Regions from separate parts of the Homo sapiens genome. Here region 1 is linked to region 2. The links come from fine-mapping of genetic effects on gene expression. Tissue or cell type: whole blood. Region 2 holds a variant in brackets; the other region holds the start of a gene. All regions are shown on one strand. Distances are from middle to middle.

What was found. PIP is the estimated chance that this variant, and not a neighbour inherited with it, causes the effect.
Region 1: it holds the start of UPF3A, and the variant in region 2 is fine-mapped to the expression of UPF3A in whole blood (TOPMed, PIP above 0.99).

What each region holds. Positions count from the first base shown.
Region 1 is chr13:114,276,621-114,284,620 of GRCh38, reverse strand. UPF3A (UPF3A regulator of nonsense mediated mRNA decay) reads right to left here and starts at 3,020. Exons shown (of 10, transcript NM_023011.4): 1 at 2,775-3,020; 2 at 2,494-2,600; 3 at 1,678-1,784. The coding sequence starts at 2,981. LOC105370384 (a long non-coding RNA gene) reads left to right here and starts at 3,552. Exons shown (of 4, transcript XR_007063887.1): 1 at 3,552-4,518. RefSeq lists silencers at 189-385, 2,003-2,212, 2,593-2,772, 3,003-3,272 and enhancers at 2,352-3,039, 3,493-3,792.
Region 2 is chr13:114,217,151-114,225,440 of GRCh38, reverse strand. It overlaps CFAP97D2 (CFAP97 domain containing 2), which reads right to left. Exons shown (of 4, transcript NM_001395229.1): 4 at 2,356-2,940. The coding sequence ends at 2,934. Among named protein-coding and RNA genes, the nearest start is that of CDC16, 14 kb to the left of the region's middle. The variant C/T (reference allele first, on the strand shown) is at 4,199.

The sequences.
Region 1 (8,000 bases), 59 kb before region 2:
TTCAAGTGAGTCTCATGCCTCAGTCTCCCAAGTATCTGAGATTACAGGCATGCCTCATGATGCCTGGCTAATTTTTTTTTTTTTTTAGTAGAGACAGGGTTTCACCATCTTGGCCAGGCTGGTCTCGAACCCCTGACCTCAACTGATCTACATTCCTCGGCCTCCCAAAGTGCTGGGATTACAGGAGTGAGCCATCACACCTGGCCATGTTACACATATTTTACACACACACACACATATACATACACGTACATACACATACATATTTTTTTGCTCCGTCGCCCCGGCTGGGATGCAGTGGCATGATCTCGGCTCACTGCAACCTCCGCCTCCCAGGTTCAAGCAATTCTCCTGTCTCAGTCTTCCGAGTAGCTGGGACTACAGGCGCCTGCCACCATGCCTGGCTAATTTTTGTATTTTTAGTAGAGACAGGGTTTCACGTTGTTGCTCAGGCCGGTCTCGAACTCCTGACCTCGTGATCCACCCGCCTTGGCCTCCTAAAGTGCTGGGATTACAGGTGTGAGCCACTGTGCCCGGCCCACCAATATTTTTTAAGTGAAAAAGGGAAACTCAGTAAGTTACTGAATAAATGAGCAATGAACACAAAGGTCAGTTCAAGCATCACATTTGCTTCTAGTCACAGGAACTAGCTTGGCTAATGCTTATTTTTTTAACAATCTTTCTAGTCCTTACCCCTCATTGGAGAAAAAGAAAACACTCATCAGTGTCAAAACACGTGGAGTCGGAAGAGGGTGGCTGGGGAGGGGAGGGCAGAAAACAACTTGCTGTGAAAGGTATACAAACTTGACAGCCAGGAACACAACAGCAGACAGCCTGACAGGAGAAGAGAAGGAAAAAGATGAAAGCAGAACCCTAGAAGTACTGATAAGGGAACTATTGAGAGTAGAGTTGAAGACTGCTGTCTCCGCAGGCAAAGCTGTTTAACAGCAGTGACTTCCTGGTGACATTATCATAAATGGTACAGTCATGAAGGATGCTGTTTAGGAAGATAGAAGTCAGTGTACATTTTGGAAAATTCCTATCAGGTAAAATAGTTTAGCTTTAGAACCTAAAAAGATCAAGTTCTCTCATGCAACAAACTCACTCATGAAAACCTTCATTCTCTGATGATAATACATAAATAGGCTGTCACTATTACACAGAATTTCTGGAATTTTTTTGGATTAAATAATAAAATTAAATAATTTCAATTTTTAATATCTGCACATAATTACAGTAACATAATCAAAATTTATAAACTTATTTTAGTCTGAGAACTTTTTAATTAAAATGCACAAATAGACCGGATGCTGTGGCTCACGCCTGTAATCCCAGCACTTTGGGAGGCTGAGGTGGGAGGATCACTTGAAGCCAGGAGTTCAAGACCAGCCTGGGCAACACAGTGAGACCCCCGTCTCTACACAATTTTTTTTTTAAATCAGCCGATCATGGTGGCACACGCCTGTGGTCCCTGCTACCTAGGAGGCTGGAGGATTGCTTGAGCCGCAGTGTGAGGCTGCAGTGAGCCGTGATTGCGGCTGCTGCACTCCAGCCTGGGCAACAGAGCAAGACCCTGTCTCAAAAAATAATAATAATTTAAAAAGCACGAATATTCTAGCAATACTTCATTAGTATACCTACAGATTATAATAGATTTTTAAAAACCAATAATCCAACCTTTGCTGTCAAGGAAGATATATCCATCAAAACGATCTCTAAAAAGAAGGATGTCATCAGGATTCCTAAAATTAATGTATGCTCTTGAGTAGAGATGAGGATAAAGACTGAAATAAGAGATAACAGTGAAAATGGTCAGTGAAAAATACAATAGTCCATTAATTTAGCCTCTTTTTCCTTTTCTGGGCACAACAAACTACTTTAGATAAAACTTTTGTGCCAAATCATCTCAGTTAATTGTAACAACTTGGATATTCTTTAGCAAAAACAAACGCAAAACGTTAACTTTACAAGGCAGAACTCAGGTCCCTTCTCCACTGCCCAGAACCGGTCCTCCGAGGCTGAAACCCTAAGGCAAGGCCAGGGCGCACTCCCAGAGGAACCCGTGGCGCCGAGAGACTCTCCTGACTTGGGGACCTTCTCCGGTATTTAAAACCGCACTGGCTGCGGCACCAGCGTGGAGGCCACAGGAAGAGCCGGCGCCCCCCGGCCCCGCAGCGCCCCGTCCGCGGACGAGCAGGGAAGCCCGGGAGGCGCCGGGCGGGCAACGCTGGTCCTTTCAAAGGCACCCGCTTTCCTAAGCGTTAGCCGTCTGAAAATCATCCGCATTTTTCATGTAAACCACATCTGTGTTTCTTTGTTGGTGGTATTTTTCTTTGACGGAACGGACACGTTTTACTGAAATGTATTTATTCAAAAAGCTCACACGACTCCCATATAGGAGAAATCAGGGTAAGGAACGTAAGGCAACGAGACGGCCACCGCCGCCGAGCTCTGGGTTCCGCCCTCTCTTCCTCCCCTCGGGGCGGGCCTCACCTCAGGTCGGCGGCGAAGAACTCGAAGTAGTCGTGTGCTGGCAGCGGGCGCAGCTGCTCCTCCAGCTGCTCCTTGGTGAGGCCCGGAGGCAGGCGGCGGATGACCACCTGCGGGGAGCGCGCGGCCGTTCCCACCGGGGCGGAGCGTGGACAAGGAGCTCAAAAGGCACCGCGTACCGCGCTGGGAGGCCCGGCCCCCGCCCCTCCCTCCCCTCCCTCCCCTCCCTCCACTCAGGGCCGTCCTCTCCTCGCGAGGTTTGCGCGCCCCGCCCCCGTCCCCACCTTGCTCAGGGCCGTCCTCTTCTCCTCGCGAGGTTTGCCCGCACCGCCCCCGCAACCGGAGGACGAAGTTGGCGGCGTCTCAGCCTCCTGCTGCTGCGAGTCGCGGTGGAACTGCACTTCTAGGGCCGACAGCTTCTCCCTCCCGCTCGGGCCCCGCGCGGCAACGGCCGCCCGAAGGCCTCCGGCCCCCTCCTTTTCCGAGCGCATGCCGCACTCTCCGCCGAGCCGCAGCCGCCAGCCCCCGACGAAACCTCGCGAGAGCTCGGCCGCCCCAGCCCCGCCCCTCCTCGAGCCGCGGCGGTCGGGGCCGCCCACGAAGGGGTCAGGCGCTGCGGGACTAGTCGGGGTCGGGGTGGTGACCTCCGGCCACACAGCCTGGCTTTCCGCCGGGTCAGGCGGCCCCTCAGGGAGCGGCGGCCGCGGTTTAGGGCGGCCCCGGAAGCGGGGCGCCGGCGGCTTTGGTCCGGGCGTGGTGGGAGGAGTTCGCGGACAAGCCGCCCTCCCATCCCAGCACCGTTTTTATCCCACTCCCCCAGGCTCTCCGTGGCCGGGGCGCCATGAAAGCCGGGTTCACATTTGAATTCTTAATTTTTTTGGAGACAGTCTCGCTCTGTCGCCCAGACCGGAGTGCAGTGGCGCGATCTCGGCTCACTGCAGCCTCTGCCTCAGCCTCCTGAGTGGCTGGGACCTACAGGCACGCGCCACCACCCCTGGCTAATTTTTTTGTTTTTTTAAAGTAGAGACGGGGTTTCACCTTGTTGGCCAGGATGGTCTCGGTAACTCCTGACCTCAAGTGATCCGCCCACCTCGGCCTCCCAAAGTGCTGGGATTACAGGCATGAGCCACCGCTCCGGGCCCTTGCACATATTTTTTTATGAACACACAGGCAGCAGCACTTTGATTACAGTAACTTACATGGAAGTTATTTTAAAATGGCTTTCCCCTTCTCTTTTTCATGTAGGCTGCATTTTTCATCTGCAGCACGCTTTCTCTCAAGAATCTCAAGCACACACAAGAAACCAGAGAGTAAAATCACTGAGGCGTGAACACATCCAGAGACCAAGGGCGTCACTGGCAGAAAAGCTTTTAGGCGGATCCACGGCCCGAGAGCCACCCTGCCCAGAGACGCGGTTTCCTAGGAGCAGTTCACACGCGGCTCTGCAGCACCCACAAGCGGGGCCAGGGGCTGGTTTTCATAGTTCACAGTCTGCAGGGATCTTAACAAAAACATGGCCGTGGTAAAAGTGCCTAGACCAGGCTTTCGTCACAACTCAGTGAGTAGGAAGACTAGTTAGGCTGATGAAAAGCTCTGATGATGTGTGATTAAAAGTAGGAAAACGTGGTTGCCAAATAAAATATTTTACTATATAGTCAGGGGGAGAGATGGGGATAAAAAAATGTGGAAACCATTTATTTTAAAATTTTGACTGTTCCTGCAGTGTTTAAAATATAGGAGATATATTCTGATTATCTTTAGAAAGAAACTGCTCTCAATCTATTTGTATGTCTTCCCTCTGGTTTTAAAATATTAAACAATCATCTAACTCAATATTTAATTTTACCTCTAGTCATGTTACTAGGTTAGGATAATAAAAAGGACTGTGAACTTCACATCTGCCATCTATAATAGATTCTTATTGTAGCAATCTTGCACCAAGGGGATTTCTTTATTAACTCTGCCAAATTTTCCAAAATTACCAAATGGAGAAAAGAGCTGGTCCCATCTGTCACCAGGCACAACCAGGTCAGTAACTTAGGGTATTTCTTGTGTTCATGTTTTGCCCTCACCACTGCAAAGCCCTGTTCTCGGCCTGGTGCCTCTGCACACCTCTGAAGCCAGGTTGGCCTCAGCCAATGTGAGGGACCCTTCATTTGACCTTCCCCAGAACCTTGAGTATTTCCACTTCTCCCTTCACTGCACTGTACCCTAAAGGGACTCACATGTTTGCTGGATGTGTATATTTCGTAAACCTAGCCAGCAAAATGTCCAAATGTTTTTCCCCCCAAGTCAATTTTTTAACACCCTTCTGATTCTTTACTTCCTGTTATTGCAAAGTTCTGAAAAATGATTTTGAAAAAAAGGTAGGATTTTAGAATTCAGCTGTTTGATGAAATTATCTTTAAATAAAACCATATGAATTTTAAGATACAGTGAATGAAATACACTTGTAAAATAGCTTATGATTTTACATGACAAATTATATCACAAAGAAAAGCTAGCTTCCTACACATTAGCCAGCCTGTTGAAATGCTCTGTTTGATACATGTACAGAACTTTACAGCCAAAGCAAAGCAGGAAGAAATATCTCCAAATCCTTCTTCATGTGGGCTTTTAGTATGTAACTTTACTTTTGCTTAACTGAACACTTCCATCTGTGAATGTGGCCCTGGGCTACATTTTACTTGGTAGCCCCTATCTCATTGGTAGATGACAGTGACTTGAAGCTGGTGACCGTAACACTTCCCAGTATTTCCTTTAACGATAACACAGCCACTGTAGTTAGCAAACAGGACACCTTTTTAGGATAAACTGTGTCCTGAGATACTGAAGAATTGGGTAGTAACAGGAACAATACTTGGCAGTACGACACATTGTTTTTACTCTCAGAGGCCTAAACACTGGTGTTAACACTGCTGCTGATCCGAATTACAGCTTACTCAAGTGTCTGAACCTTTTGACATTCACTTACAGAAACCAGAAAAATTCTAACAGTGATCAATGAGAAAACTAAATGGTTTTTTTTTTTTTTTTGCTCTGGCAGGAAAAATAAATGTAAAAAACTCAGCACTTTATTAATATAATACTTTCATTTTAGTTGTTTTAAAAATAATTACCTTAAGTTCAGTCACTTGATTTTTTAGCCCCAACTCAAGACAGGGGAGGCATACATGATGCCTGACAGAGAGACAGAAAAGCCATTTAAAAATGAAAACATGAAAACGCATTAGTTTGAGTCTAATTTAGCGTGGGGTAACTCATGGTCTCTAAATGTATTACTGCATTAACTTCCAGCGCGATACCTGACTTTCACCATGATGAATGGAGACAGGATGGGGTCTGAATGCTAGTCTTCAATGCACCATACAACAGTGCTAGACCCTCATCAGTATGAAGGGGAACAAAGCCCTCCTTAAAAGATTTACTAGAGTTAACACCTGGGGATCCTCAAGAAATGAATGCTATCATTGTTCTGCTTCAGAAGGTAGAAATACAGGGAATACACTTCAGATAGGTTAAGATAAAAAGTTTTGTGTTTAAGGCAGCACCTCAGTTGCCTGGAAAATTCACTTCTGTATAATGCCTAATTTGTTAATGATGCCGTGAATAGATGCTTTCTAATAACTACACAAGTTTGTTTTTATGAAAAAGTAGAGTAACATGTCCTCTGATGTTAGTAGTAGGAGAGTTTGAATAAAGGACTTTAAACAAATGAAGCATATAATCCTCTCTCTTTATTAGAATGATGAAGAGTGGGGGTGTTGTCTGTTTATACAGTTATCACCTAGGAGTCATATCAAGATTCTTTTCCTAATCTCAGTGAAGAGGTTAAAAAAAAGTTTAAAGATTAGAGATTTAGTAGAATTGTCTTGTAGCACCTTTTTAAAATAAAATTTTTAAACGTATCTTTTCAGACCGGGCGCTGTGGCTCAAGCCTGTAATCCCAGCACTTTCAGAAGCTGAAGCAGGTGCATCATTTGACGTCAGGAGTTTGAGATCAGCCTGGCCAACATGGTGAAACCCCGTCTCTACTAAAAATACAAAAATTAGCTGGGTGTGGTGGCAGGAGCCTGTAATCCCAGCTACTCAGTAGGCTGAGACAGGAGGATTGCTTGAGTCCGAGAGGCAGAGGTTGCAGTGAGCCGATATCACGCCACTGCACTCCAGCCAGGGCAACACAGTGAGCCTCCGTCTCAAAAAACAAACAAATTTTAACATATCTTTTCACAAAATCAATCACCAGCCAAATGTGTAAAACTATGTAAGAACTTTTCCTTCTTGACCCCAACAAATGGGGCATTTCCATCTGTTCCGCTATGGCTGATTTCAGATGCTCCTACAAAACAGGGAATCCAGCTGTGACATATTTTAAATATCATTACTGATAGACACCTGCTTATTTCACATAGATTCAGTTTTCAATCTTATGTGAGAAAACTGCAAAAGATGTTAAAATAATGGAATAAAAAACAGGCCAAGAGAGCCTATAACATTTGCCAACAGTTAAAAGGATACGTCACCAAATTAGTATGTGAGAAAATAGGTAAAATTCAATTTCTTTATCTTATACATACCAGGAGGTAGCAATTACAAAGAATAGTGAATCACATTTATTTTATAGAACACAATTATAACTTAGCACCAATAGCTGTTCAATTCTTTGAGCTTTTTAAAGCATCATAAAATGTGTTAATAGCTGAGTTTGTTACCTTAAATACTATGACTTTCAAAAGTTAAACTGAAATTTGATAAGTACTGCAATTTATTTTATATGACTATTATTTAGCTATAGTTGTGTTTTTTGTTTTTTTTTTTTTTTGAGATGGAGTCTCGCTCTGTCACCCAGGCTGGAGTGCAGTGGCGCAATCTCAGCTCACTGCAGGCTCCGCCTCCCAGGTTCACACCATTCTCCTGTCTCAGCCTCCTGAGTAGCTGGGACTACAGGCACCCACCACTACACCCGGCTAATTTTTTGTATTTTTAGTAGAGACGGGGTTTCACCGTGTTAGCCAGGAGGGTCTCAATCTCCTGACCTCGTGATCCGCCCGCCTCAGCCTCCCATAGTGCTAGGATTACAGGCGTGAGCCACTGCGCCCAGCCTATAGTTTTTTTTTAATATGACTAATATTTAGTTATAGTTTTAAGACAGCAGTGACGTCACAGAAAACGGCAGGGCAGGAAGCTTCAGGGATTAATTGGTTCTTCCACCAAAACCACCATTAAGCTGGACAACAAATTAGCAGAATCAACTGTTTTCTAACTCTGTCACCTCATCAGATGCTTACTGCAACCCGGGGAAGGCTTGATGATGCAGAGGCTGCAGCTTTTTGGTTAAGAGGGTGGTGTGGATGGACAGCCAACCTACCTGCTGCAGCCTGTCCTCAGCGAGGACCCTGTGCATTTTGGTCACATGATGGTGCCCTGAGGGACCAGCGTCGATGCGTGCCTTTGTCTCGACCCCCTCAGGCTGCAGCAATTTCCCCAATACCATCTATCAGAAAATTTAG
Region 2 (8,290 bases):
CCTCCCCCCTCCCCTTCCTCCCCTCCCCTTTCCCCCCTCACTTCTCCTCCCCTCCCTAGCCCTTCCCCCTCCCCCTCCCTCCTCTGTCCTCCTCCTCCTCCTTCTGTCTCTTCCCCTCCTCTTCCACTATAGGACTACTTTTCTACCTTCTTTTCCCTTCTCCCTTCTTCTCTCCCTCCTTTATTTTCTTCCTTTCTATATTTAACACGTATTTCCTGTGTGCCCACCTCACACAGGATAGACAGGCTTCTGTCCTCACTGCTCCATCCATTATATTTATGATGGTTTTAAAGCATTTCAAAGTTCTATAGGTTTCAATTAATTTGATACCCAGAGTAACATGGGACAGACACATCTCTGGATCTGAAAATGCACCTGGTACTTGACTTTTCAGGTCATCAGAGCTTGTGGGTGGCTGGTTTTTACACTAAGGCTGCTGGCAGGATGCTCATTTGTCCACTGACTCTCTGAGCAAAGTCCAGAAGGGAAAAGAGCTGACATTATGGCTCTTCTGTGTAATGGCAAGATTTTGTCTACTTCTTGACTATGTGTAGCAATTTGTCAGTCTTTATAAACTGTTTGCTCTCTGGAAAGAGAGATTGAAAAGAGAACAATGTTCTCAGGACCAGACAGCAGCCTTTCTAGTTTTGTGATAGATCCTTTGACGTTCATTGCATTAGGGCCCATCAGGGAGGGCTGGCAGAGGCCAGGACTCCTACAGCACAACCCTTGTGGGGTGGAACAAGGTGGGGACACACAGGCAGGCACATTCGGAAAATGCTGCCAGAGTCAACCCTAAACTGCCACCTCGAAAAGGAGGTGCAAATTCGAGGCTTGCAAACCAAGGACACAAATCGCTATGGAGAGGCCATTTTTTCCATCAAGTTTAGCACAGACGTGGACTGTTAATGGAGGTCCTGTGCCCAGTTGCGCTTCACGACACAGGGGGGCGGGGCTGCCTGGAGAGGTCATGGCTGCAGTGGGCAGAGGCCCAGCTCCTCCCGGCCCGATGCCGGCATCTCAGGCTCCAGCACCACCTGCTGCACAGGAGAGGCTTCGGGAGGTCCACTCGGGGGATCAGCAGGAGACCCAGAATCCACATCCAGGCCTGTCTGACCCCACAGTCTGTGATTTTAAACACTGTCAATGGAAGGTCCACCCTGAGGAGCGGTGAGGAACCTGGGATTGCCGAATTCTGCATGGAGGAGCCGGAGGCAAGCTCTGCTATTCATGTCAAGTGTATTTTAAAGGGGCTTGTGCATAAAGGAATGAAATAAGGAATGAAATTAGCTGCTGCTTCTTTTTTTTTTTTTTTTTTTTTTTGGTAGAGACGGGGTCTCATCATGTGGCCCAGGCTGGTCTTGAATTCCTGGGCTCATGCGACCCTCCCACCTTGGCCTCCCAAACTGCTGGGAATGTAGGTGTGCGATACCATGCCCAGCCTGAAATTATCTTCTTATTTTCATTCAAACAAAACAAAACAAAAATTTAAATCTATAATATAGGTTAAAAATAGCAAAGAGTACTTTGGGAGGCCAAGGCAGACAGATCACCTGAGGTCAGGCATTCAAGACCAGCCTGGTCAACATGGTGAAACCCCGTCTCTACTAAAAATACAAAAATTAGCTGGGAGTGGTGGTGCATGTGCCTGTAATCCCATCCATCTCAAAAAATAAATAAATAAAATAAAAATAATAAATAAATAAATAGCAAAGAGTAGTTAGGGACCGTGACATTTCTGAGGGGCTAGCTATCAGCTCCATGAGGCTGAGACTACATATGCAGAGTTCTGTTGAATGAATGAAGGTGTGTGTGAGTCTTTTAACTCATTTTTAAAAGGCATTGCCCATGGGCTGATGTTCATTGTTGTGGAACAGCTTAGGCGGGATCTTACCTGGGGCTGATAGAGAACTAAGCAGATCCCAAGGGCTCTCAGACATACCCTTGATGTCTCCAACCGAGACTCTCTGGGTCCTTTTTTCTTTTCTTTTCTTTTCTTTTTTCTTTCTTTTTTTTTTTTTTTTTGAGATGGAGTCTTGCTCTGTCGCCCCGGTTGGAGTGCAGTGGCGCGTTCTCGGCTCACTGCAACCTCCATCTCCCAGGTTCAAGCGATTCTCCTGCCTCAGCCTTCTGAGTAGCTGGGATTACAGGTGCCCGCCACCATGCCTGGCTAACTTCTTTGTATTTTTAGTAGAGATGGGGTTTCACCATGTTGGTCAGGCTGGTCTCGAACTCCTCACCTTGTGATCCGCCCACCTCGGCCCCTCAAAGTGCTGGGATTACAGGCGTGAGCCATCGTGCCTGGCCCTCTGGGTCTTTTTTATATCTTAGGTTATGTATTCTGGAGTCAAGCTGTAGTTTCATCACGTTCAAAAATTTTAATCTGATTTATTTAGATATTTGTTAAAGGAACAATCACAGAGCTTTTAAGGTAAGTTAAAAATCCACCTAGGAATTATAGACAAATCCACCACAGCTCAAAATACAGTAACAGAATAAGTCTTCATAGCTAGAGAAAACAATCTAATTCAAACCCTCACCTCCTAACATGACTCTGCATAGTTTGTTTCCAGTTATCAGAGTCCAAGAAGCACAGAAAATAGTTTTGCTGCGTCATCTGCTCGGGCACATTGTTGAAACACCGTTTGAGGAGCTGCCTCCTGGGCACTTCACAGCTGCTCCGGCTGTGATAACAGTGAAGAGAGGAAGACAGCGGGGCTGCCCTGGCCCCGGCCCTGGGCAAGGCTGATTCCCCACACTGCCCTGAGACCGCTGGCTGTGTTAGCCTGGGGGAGCTCATGGCTGGCCTTGTGGGTCTTCCTTGTGACTCCCTCATCACACTTGTCTTCTTTCTGGATTTGTGTTCTGAATCCTTACCCTTCCTCACTTCTCTTTTAGGGTCCAGGCTTGGCTGTGCGCTTGCTAATCCAGTTTCACTTCCTGCTGGATTTAAAATACATATTTGAAACTAACGCTTTCTTAGGCAAGAACAAGAAACTATCAACTTACTTGGGAAATGGAATATTTCAACTCATTGACAAGTCTTTACTTAGAATTAAACATACAATTTTTAAAATAACAGCTTTATTTAGATACAATTCTATACCCCTTTATAGTGTATATTTTAGTGTGTTTTGGTATATTCAGAGTTGTGCAACTATTGTCACAATATAATTTCAGAACATCTTCATCACCTCCCCCTCCAAAAATCAAACTCCTTTGGGATCACTCCCCAATTTCCCTTCCCCCAGCCCCGACAACCACTGATTACTTTTTGTCTCTTTGAATGTGCCTATTCTGGACATTTCATATAAAAGGGATCAGACAACATGCGGCATTTAGTATCCAGCTTTTTCACGGAACATAATAATGTCTTTAAGGTTTATCCATTCTGTAACTAGTATCATTCCTTTTTATGGTAGAATAATATTCCATTCTATGGCTATACCACGTTTTATCTGTTCATCAGTTGATAGACATTTGGGTTGTTTACACCTCTTGGTCATTGTGAACTGTGCTGCTATGAACATCAGTGTATGGGTTTTTGCATGAATGTATGTTTTCAAGTCTCTCGAATATAGACCTAGGAGTGGAGTTGCTGGGTGATTTGGTAACTGTTTAACTTTTTGATGAACTACCAAACTGTTTTCCAAAGTGGCTGCACCACTCTTTTTTTTTCTTTTCATTTTAAGTTTGTGTACCTTTTATTTCATTTCCTTTTTTTTTTATTACACTTTAAGTTCTAGGGTACATGTGCACAATGTGCAGGTTTGTTACATATGTATACATACCACTGTTTACCCCTACCAGCAGCCTATGAGGGTTCCAGTTTCTCCACATCCTTATTGTAATCTACCTTTTGATTGCAGACAAGTTAGTGGCTGCAAGTGACATCTCACTGTGGTCTTCATTTGCATTTACTAATAACATTGAACATCTTCTCATGCACTTATTGGCCATTTGTATATCCTGTTGGGAGAAATCTCTATTCAAATAATCAGATAACCTTTTGTCAGTTTTGTTGTTAAACATCTTTCTGAAATGCAGCAAAGTACTTTTCCCGGAATCAGTAAACTGAGCCATGTTGGCTTGTTGCTGGATGGTAAAGGGCCTTCAGGAGGAAAAAGGAAAGAAACTCAAATTTATCTTTTGCCAAGTAAGTGTGAGTCACTTTTTTTGTTTTTTTGTTTTTTTGAGA[C/T]GTAGTCTCGCTCTGTCGCCTAAGCTGGAGTGCAGTGGCGCGATGTCGGCTCACTGCAACCTCCGCCTCCCTGGTTCAAGCGATCCTCCTGCCTCAGCCTCCTGAGTAGCTGGGACTACAGGCGCACGCCACTACACTCAGCTAATTTTTGTATTTTTAGTAGAGACGGGGTTTCACCATGTTGGCCAGGATGGTCTCGATCTCCTGAAATCGTGATCCGCCTGTCTCGGCCTCCCGAAGTGCTGGGATTACAGGCATGAGCCACCATGCCCAGCCAAGTGTGAGTCACTTTCACAGTCATTTTTGCAAATGTTATTCACTTAACCCTGACGTGAGGTCCAGGAGGTGGTTCCTGTCCCATCTTTAGAAGCGAGAATGGGGCTCCCCGAGGCTGAGCTTTTGTCCGAGATGATGGTTGGAGGCCAAGGAGCTCAAAGCCAACTCACATCCATTGTGTGTCCTGTGTCAACCTGCACTGAGTCAGCCGATTATTTAAACAGCTAATTTTGCTCCTGGAGATCATTTGTGTTTGTTTAATTTTTGCTTCTTTCTCATGTGCAGGAGTTATTGGGGTTGGGGCACTAAATTAGAGCAATGCATACTTCCAGTTAGCTGGGGGCTCCAGGAAGTGCCAGGATGGCCAGTGGGTTTTGTTGGATAATCTTATATAAATCCTTCAGTAGAAACAGGTACAAAATTATTATCTTCTCATTTTGGAGTTAGGGATAAATGACTTGAAGGGGTAAGGAGGATGGAAAATTGAAATCCTTCCTTTAAAATGTTTGAGAAATTTTGCGAGTTAATATTTAAACCAGATTGAGATATCCAGGAGACTAGCAGTACAGCCTCCGTCAGGTGAAGCTTTGGGGCAGAGGAGAGGGGCCTGGGCTCTGGAGAGCAGGGAAGGGGTTCTCTGCCAGTGTCATGAATTTCTGGGACTATAAAGGTAAAGTGATGTGTCCCATCCATGCGAGGCCAGCGAAGATCCCAGAGCAAAGATCCCGGATCCCAAAGGTCTGGCAGCTGGCCGAACCATAGGGAGGTGGTCCAACAGCAGGTCAAGGTGGCCGCTGGGCCCAGGAGGGTCTTCTGAAGGCTGTGTTTCAGGTTTCTGGTCTCATAACACTTAGCATTTTTCTTTCCTAAACCTACAGTTTTCAAATAAATTAACTTTGTTTTTCTTTCTAAAATGAGAAGACGTGTGTGCCGTGCTCCCTCGTCGCCAGCTTGGTACGTGGCTGGTCTGTTTCCAAGGTGGGGAAGCACCACCGAGAGACGCATTCACGTTCCAGTAGTTCAAAACTGCAGACCCCATGGCAGAGAAGGGGACTGAAGACTGAGGTACCCTATGGCCCTGGGCCCATCGCCTCCTTCCTCCCTCACACACAGGAGCCAAAGGCCCTAGGAGCTTAAAGATGCTGCTGAGAAAGCCATCTTCTTGGGACACACAGACCATAATTCCAGCTTGAGGTTCAGAGACAATGAGTCGTTTCCCATGTTTCCCGTTTTTGTCCAGGTACAGGGCAGTGGGGGAGGCATGCCTCGGAGCCAGTGTCCTGCAAGAGCCTGCCCCTCCCCAGCTCTGTCTTGGAGCCTACACTTGAACCATATTGCCAAAGCTGGGGACTTCAATAAAGTGCAGTGACTGGTCTGTGGCTGCAGGAAACTCTTTCTAGTGCTTCTGTTTTCCCTTTTTTTGTTTGACTTTATCTTAACATTGCTTTTGTGGTGGGCTTTATCTGTTTCCTGTTACATAAAGCAGGAAGAATAAGAGAGCCAAAGAAAGTAAATGAAGTATAAATTTGAAACATTGGTTGCAAGCACTGTCTTGACATTTGCTGAGGAAAAACTCAATAGTATTAATATAAGAGGAGGAAAAGTAAGGAAATGAAAACAAAAGAGCCAGAAATGAGAACAAATACAATATACTTATGTCAATACATATAAATGGATAAAACTGAGCGGGGAAAGCCTCTGGGACTAGGTTAAAATGCAAAATTATGCTATTCTGTTTATGAGACAATATAAAATAAAATGACCCAAAGATATTAAAAATAAAATGATGTAAATTTGTTTGAGTTCTTTGTAGATTCTGGATATTAGCCCTTTGTCAGATGAGTAGATTGCAAAAATTTTCTCCCATTCCGTAGGTTGCCTGTTCACTCTGATGGTAGTTTCTTTTGCTGTGCAGAAGTTCTTTAGTTTAATTAGATCCCATTTGTCAATTTTGGCTTTTGTTGCCATTGCTTTTGGTGTTTTAGTCATGAAGTCCTTGCCCATGCCTATGTCCTGAATGGTATTGCCTAGGTTTTCTTCTAGGCTTTTTATGGTTTTAGGTCTTACATTTAAGTCTTCAATCCATCTTGAATTAATTTTTGTATAAGGTGTAAGGAAGGGATCCAATTTCAGCTTTCTACATGTGGCTAGCCAGTTTTCCCAGCACCATTTATTAAATAGGGAATCCTTTCCCCATTTCTTGTTTTTGTCAGGTTTGTCAAAGATCAAATGGTTGTAGATGTGTATTATTGTTTCTGAGGGCTCTGTTCTGTTCCATTGGTCTATATCTCTGTTTTGGTACCAGTATCATGCTGTTTTGGTTACTGTAGCCTTGTAGTATAGTTTGAAGTCAGGTAACATGATGCCTCCAGCTTTGTTCTTTTGGCTTAGGATTGTCTTTGCAATGTGGGCTCTTTTTTGGTTCCATATGAACTTCAAAGTAGTTTTTTCCAATTCTGTGAAGAAAGTCATTGGTAGCTTGATGGGGATGGCATTGAATCTATAAATTACCTTGGGCAGTATGGCCATTTTCACTATATTGATTCTTCCTATCCATGAGCGTGGAATGTTCTTCCATTTGTTTGTGTCTTCTTTTATTTTGTTGAGCAGTGGTTTATAGTTCTCTTTGAAGAGGTCCTTCACATCCCTTGTAAGTTGGATTCCTAGGTATTTTATTCTCTTTGAAGCAATTGTGAATGGGAGTTCACTCATGATTTGGCTCTCTGTTTGTCTGCTATTGGTGCATAAGAATGCTTGTGATTTTTGCACATTGATTTTGTATCCTGAGACTTTGCTGAAGTTGCTTATCAGCTTAAGGAGATTTTGGGGTGAGATGATGGGGTTTTCTAAATATACAATCACGTCATCTGCAAACAGGGACAATTTGACTTCCTCTTTTCCTAATTGAATACCCTTTATTTCTTTCTCCTGCCTGATTGCCCTGGCCAGAACTTCCAACACTATGTTGAATAGGAGTGGTGAGAGAGGGCATCCCTGTCTTGTGCCAGTTTTCAAAGGGAATGCTTCCAGTTTTTGCCCATTCAGTGTGATATTGGCTGTGAGTTTGTCATAAATAGCTCTTATTATTTTGAGATACGTCCTATCAATACCGAATTTATTGAGAGTTTTTAGCATGAAGGGCTGTTGAATTTTGTCAAAGGCCTTTTCTGTATCTATTGAGATAATCATGTGGTTTTTGTCATTAGTTCTGTTTATATGCTGGATTACATTTATTGATTTGCATATGTTGAACCAGGCTTGCATCCCAGGGATGAAGCCTACTTGATCATGGTGGATAAGCTTTTTGATGTGCTGCTGGATTCGGTTTGCCAGTATTTTATTGAGGATTTTTGCATTGATGTTCACCAGGGATATTGGTCTAAAATTCTCTTTCTTTGTTGTGTCTCTGCCAGGCTTTGGTATCAGGATGATGCTGGCCTCATAAAATGAGTTAGGGAGGATTCCCACTTTTTCTATTGATTGGAATAGTTTCAGAAAGAATGGTATCAGCTCCTCCTTGCACCTCTGGTAGAATTCGGCTGTGAATCCATCTGGTCCTGGACTTTTTTTGGATGGTAGGCTATTATTGCCTCAATTTCAGAACCTGTTATTGGTGTATTCAGGGATTCAACTTCTTCCTGGTTTAGTCTTGGGAGGGTGTATGTGTCCAGGAATTTATCCATTTCTTCTAGATTTTCTAGTTTATTTGCGTAGAGGTGTTTATAGTATTCTCTGATGGTAGTTTGTATTTCTGTGGGATCAGTGGTGATATCCCCTTTATCATTTTTTATTGCATCTATTTGATTCTTCTCTCTT